Linked DNA regions of Homo sapiens: region 2 is linked to region 1. The links come from fine-mapping of genetic effects on gene expression. A gene starts in region 1. The other region holds a variant in brackets. All regions are shown on one strand. Distances are from middle to middle. Region 1 holds the start of ACSS1 (acyl-CoA synthetase short chain family member 1). Region 2 overlaps ACSS1 (acyl-CoA synthetase short chain family member 1).

Region 1 (2,905 bases):
ACTGCCCCCATCCTCACAATGAGGAGACTGAGGGCTGGGGGGGCAGAACAACAAGGACAACTGAGGGAGGAGTTGGAGAAAATGGGGCCCTGGTGACCCTGCCATAAAGACCCGCAGGTCCTTTCTTAAACACTCCCAAATCCAGCAAGCTGGTTATGACCACCCTTCTGGTCTGCATCCCTCTGATCAACACCGTGTCTGCCAGCCCCTCCCCGCAGGCCCCACACCCAGGCCCACCCTGCATCCGGAGCCCACCTCGCACTTGGCACCCACCCTGCGTGGCCAGCCCTGCCTGCAGTTCAGGGCCTCCCCCTCGGTGCCCAGTCAGCGCCTTAGGTGGGGGCGAGGGTGCTGTGTACGACCCCCAGCCCCAAATCTTAGCAGAGCAGCAGGGCCTCTGCTCAGCAAGTTCCAAACAACTGACCACCAGTCAACTGTTTGGGGCCGACGTCAGACCCCGCGGGTCCAAAGCAGGCCCCAGGTCGCTGGGGTGCAGTTCTCTGAGGCCGAGAACGAGAACGGGGAGGCCGCCGTTACTTCCTTCCCGTCCACAGGCCCCAGGCCCCAGGCCCGCAGCGAAGAAATAACTGGTTCCAGCTGCCACGCCGAGTTTCCTCCTCCCCAGGTCGCCCGCCACAGCTCTGTTTGTTTACGTGGGCAGGGCTTGTCCCCAGGCTGATCCCCGGGCACCGCAGCCCGCAGTGACAACCGCCACCGCTTTGTTTTTCCCTCCACCCCGGTATGGGAACGGGAAAGTCCCGACTCCGGGGCGCTCGGGTGTAGCCCGCGGCTCCCCGCCGGCTCTTGCTCAGCGGCGCTATGCACCCGGTAACGCAACTCTGGAGTCCGCCGAGCGAGGAGCCGCGCCGAGCAAGGCCAGCAGCGGGGCGTCCCAAGCGGCCGCCGGGTCCCCGCGGGCGCCGGCCCGAGCTGGGCACGTGGATCTGGGGCCCGATGGGATGAGGGACGGGGTGACGTGGAGCCACTGCTTAGAGCGGGCGGGGCGGACGGAATACCGGAGGAGGGGCCCCTGCAGGGCTGCGATCCGCGCTGCCCGGGGACGGCTGCCGCTGGCGAGAGGCTCCGAGTCCCCTCGGGACCCAAGAGTTGGGGGCGTCCTGGGTCTCCCGAAGCCCACTCACCAGAGACATTTAACTGGCCTCCCAGGAACCAGCCGATCTTGCCAGTGCTGAAGTCGCAGTCCCAGACGGTGTGGTAGGGGGTGTCCCACACGAGAGTGTCCCGCGCCAGAGGCCCCCAGAAGGCGGCCGGCTCCCGGGCTGCCTGTGCACTCAGCGCGGGATACGAGCCTGGCTGTGCTGCTGCTGCTGCAACTGCGGGAGCGCTGCCCGAGGGTCCCGAGGCCGCCCTGCGCGGCGCGCTCACCCCGCACGGCGGCCGCGCGGGCTGCCCCGAGAGCCCTCGCAGGCTGCCCAGCAGCCTCCCGACGCCGCGGCCCAGGGTGCGCGCCGCCATCTAGGCAGGCTACCTGAGCTCTCTGTGCTCCCAGAGTGGGTGCCTCACGCCCGGGGCGCCCCGTGGAGTCTCCGCGGGCCCCGCCCCTGCTCCGCCCTTCCGCCACCATCCATTCCTCCAGGGCCCCCTCCCGGAGCCCGCCCGGGTCCCACCCCTTCTTCTGCTGCCCGGGAGAGGGGGGGCCGCTTAGGAAGAGGGGAGCAGCGTGGGGAAGGGGTGCAGGGGAGCGCGGGGCGGAGCAGGGTCCCAGGCCCTGGCCCAGGCGCTGCGCTCCGGTGAGTCTGCGGTCCCACCCGGATGTTCCTCGAGTCGGCCTGTTTTGGTTTCAGTTTGCACGCTCTCCTGCAAGCCCCGACAGCTTCTTCGAGCTGCCAGAGGCACGTGCGGCCCAGGACCCCAGGACGCAGGCTCAGGGCCTGGGGCGAGGGGACCCTCTGGGATGGGGAGGAGCCGGGAGGGAGCCGGCACCAACGTTAAGGGGGCTGGTGCACCCAAGCGCACTGGTGGGTCCCAAGACAATAGGTCGGTCAGTTCCGCATCTCAGAGGCTGAAGCCAAGGTTTTCATGCCTTTGTGCGCCCCTGAGAGTGAACCCCACCCCTGGAGTCTCAGCAGCACGCGAAAGGGGCTGGCGCCTTTCTAGGCTCCCGCCTAGAAGCCAGGAGGCTGCGCAAGCCTGAGTCCGTGTTCTGGGTCCCATGCTCCAGCCCCCCAGCTGCCGGCCTCCGTCCTGGCGGGGGTCACGTCCTGCTGGGGGTCGGTGGTGGGTGATATGGGGCGATGAGGACTTTCTCCAGTTGCTGCAGCATCTGTAGCCTGAGTTCAAACTCTGTGACCTTGAGCAAGTTCCTTAACTTCTCGGTGCCTCGTTTTCCTTTTGGGGAAGACGGAAGTAATGTCTCCCTGGGGGGCGGGGACGGCGGGGGTGGGCAGCTGCAGTAAGGAATACATTGGACAATGTCTGTCAAGCGTCTACCCTTGCGTGGCCCCATAGTAAGCTCAGTAGTGGGGATGATGTTTTTGCAGCTGTGGAGCCAGGAAGGACAGAAGGAAACGTATAAAACTGGTCTCCACCGAGTTCTTAAATATTCTGACACCCAAGAAGTAAATTCATAACAAACGGGTAAACACAGGGAAGAGAGATTTTGGAAAACTGGTTTATTGAGTTCTCTGTGATGGGAAAGTTTCTTTCCCTTGAGCTGTAGGGCTTGCAGAGGGGAGGAGCCTGCCATTGGAGGAGCCTCTGCGTGGGCTAGCCACCAGCCCCTGCTGGGGAATGCTGCTGTCTGCCAGAGAAGACAGGAGTGTACCTAGAGCTGGAGAATCAGTGACATCTACTAGCATAACACATGCCCTGCACAGTGCTAGCGCTTGACCTGCATTTTCTCCTTTATTTATTTATGATACTTTTTTAGAGATAGGGCCTGTAG
Region 2 (2,905 bases), 30 kb before region 1:
TCCTGTCCCACAGACCCATGAAATAGAATACTAAAATTTATTGTTTTCAGTTTTATTAAACACTAAGTTTTGGAGTAGTTTGTGACACAGCAATAGAAAACCAAAACAGCCCCTCATTGACCCAACAGGACACAGATACCCATCTCAACAGAATCTTGTCCCCAGGAACCTGGTACCTGCAGAGCTGCACAAAAAGGCTGAAGGATATCAGGGCAGAGTCCTCTTCAGGACAGAGTCATGGCCCCTGCCCTCCCATGCTTGGTTGTTTAGGAATTCTGAGGTTCTGGGAGCTGCCCCAGCATCCAGCTACTAAATCCCCACATGATGAAGTCACCAAGAGTCAACTGCTATTGCTTGTTTCAAACAATCTCAACAGAAGCACTGGGTGACCATGGCCACACCAGCAAGAGAGAAAAGGGGCAGCTTAGCATAATGCTGAAAGCATCAACTATGGCAGCAGAATGTCTGTGTTCAACTCCTGGCTCTGTCACTTACTAGGTATGTGACCTTAGGTAAGTCACTTAAACTCTCTGTGTCTCAGTTTACCCATCTTCTTCCCTTTCTAAAGACCAGAACCAGATGACTTCACTGGTGAATTCTATGAAATATTTAAAGAATTAGCACCAATCCTTCTCAAACTCTTCCAAAAAATTGAAGAGGAGATACTTTCAAATTCATTTTATGAGGCCAGCATTACCCTGATACTAAAGCCAGACAAAGATTACTATAGAAAAGAAAACTACAGACAAATATCTCATATAAACAATGATACAAAACTCTTCCACAAAATGCTAGCAAACTGTATCCAGCAGCATATTAACAGAATATACTATGACCAATCAGGACTTACCCTAGGAAAGGAAGGGTGGTTCAACATGCAACAATTAATCACTGTAATACATCACACTACTACAATGAAGGAAAAAACACATCTCAATTGACGCAGAGCAAGCATTTGACAAAATCCAACACCCTTTGATGATCAAACACTTAAAACTAGGAATAGAAGGGAACTTAATGGATAAAGAGCATCTGAAAACCCACAGCTAACATCATATTAATGGTAAAAGACTGAAGCCTTCCCCCTAAGATCAGGAACAAAACAAGGATGCCCACTTTTCACCACTGCAATTCAACATTGTAAACAAAGTTGTTGCCAGAGTGATCAGG[C/CA]AAAAAAAAAAAAAAAAAAGAAATAAAAGACATCCAAATTGGAAAAGAAGAAGTAAAACTATATTCAGAGATGATATGATCTACTATGTATAAATCCTAATGAATCCACAAAAAAACTATTTATTAGAGCTAATAAATCATTAAATTTGCAATATACAAGATCACTATGCAAAAATTGCTGTATCTCTACATATTAGCAATGAACAATCTGTAAAGGAAATTAGGAAAACAATTCCATTTATAAAAATTCATAAAAGAATAAGATACTTAGGAATAAATTTAGCCTAGGATATGCAAGACTTGTACACTGAATACCACAAAATATTGTTGAAAGAAATTTTAAAATACTTAAATAAATGGAAAGATATCCCATGTTTGTGGATTAATATTGTCAATATGGCAATACCTTCCAATTTTTCTACAGATTGAATGCAATCAAAATCCCAACATCTTTTTTTGCAGAAATGGAAAAGCTAATCCTAAAATTCCTATGAAAATACAAGAAAGCAAGAAGAGCCAAAACAATCTTGAAAAAAGAAGAACAAAGTTGGGAGACTCACGCTTCCTGGTTTTAAAACTTACAAAGCTACAGTGTCAAAACAGTTTGATACTGAGATAATAATAGATACATAGGTAATCATATGGATAAATGGAATAGGATAGAGAGCCCAGAAATAATCCCTCACATATATGGTCAAATTATTTTCAACAAGAGTACCAAGTCCATTTAACAGGGAAAAGAACAGCCTCTTTAGCAAATGGCGCTGGGACCACTGGATAGCCATAGGACAAAGAATGAAACTGGACCCTTACCTCACACCCTGTACAAAAATCAACTCAAAATTAAAGATCTAAATGTAAAAAGGTAAAACTTAAATTCTTTGAAGAAAACATACGAACAGGGAGGCCGAGGCGGGCGGATCACGAGGTCAAGAGATCGAGACCATCCTGGTCAACATGGTGAAATCCTGTTTCTACTAAAACTACAAAAATTAGCTCGATGCAGTGGCACGTGCCTGTAATCCCAGCTACTCGGGAGGCTGAGGTAGGAGAATCACTTGAACCCAGGAGGCGGAGGTTGCAGTGAGCTGAGATCATGCCCCTGCACTCCAGCCTGGCAACAGAGCGAGAATCCATCTCAAAAAGAAAAAAAAAAGAAAACATAGGAAAAAATCTTCACAGCATTAGATTTGGCAATGTTTTCTCAAATAATACAGCAAAGACACAAGCAACAAAATAAAAAATAGATAAATTAGACTCCATTAAAATTTAAAACTTTTATACACCAAAGTTTACTACTGAGAAAGTGAAAAGACCACCCACAGAATGGGAGAATATTTGCAAATCATATATCTGATAGAGGTCTAATATTCAGAATATATAAGTAACTTACATACTCAACAACAAAAAGACAAGCAAGCAATTAAAATATGGGCAAACAGCTTAAGTAGACTTTGTCCAGTGAAAACATACAAATGGCCAACAAGTACATAAAAGATGTTCAATATTATTAGTCATTAGGGAAATGCAAATCAAAACCACAATGAGATACAACTTCATTCTTACTATGACGGCTGTAATTTTTTAAAGTGAAAAACAACAAGATGCAGAGAAACTGGAGCCTGCATACACTATTAGTGGAAATGTAAAATGGTGCATCTCCTTAGCAAAACAGTTTTACAGTTCTTTGATAAGTTAAACATGGAATTACCACATGAGTCAGCAAGCCCACTCA

Evidence for each region.
Region 2: its variant is fine-mapped to the expression of ACSS1 in whole blood (INTERVAL, PIP above 0.99).

The regions. Positions count from the first base shown.
Region 1 is chr20:25,056,627-25,059,531 of GRCh38, forward strand. It overlaps ACSS1 (acyl-CoA synthetase short chain family member 1), which reads right to left and starts at 1,513. Exons shown (of 14, transcript NM_032501.4): 1 at 1,143-1,513. The coding sequence starts at 1,476. RefSeq lists enhancers at 609-738, 1,389-1,994 and silencers at 839-1,108, 1,239-1,768.
Region 2 is chr20:25,026,609-25,029,513 of GRCh38, forward strand. All of the region lies in intron 3 of ACSS1 (acyl-CoA synthetase short chain family member 1), which reads right to left. Among named protein-coding and RNA genes, the nearest start is that of ACSS1, 30 kb to the right of the region's middle. The variant C/CA (reference allele first, on the strand shown) is at 1,171.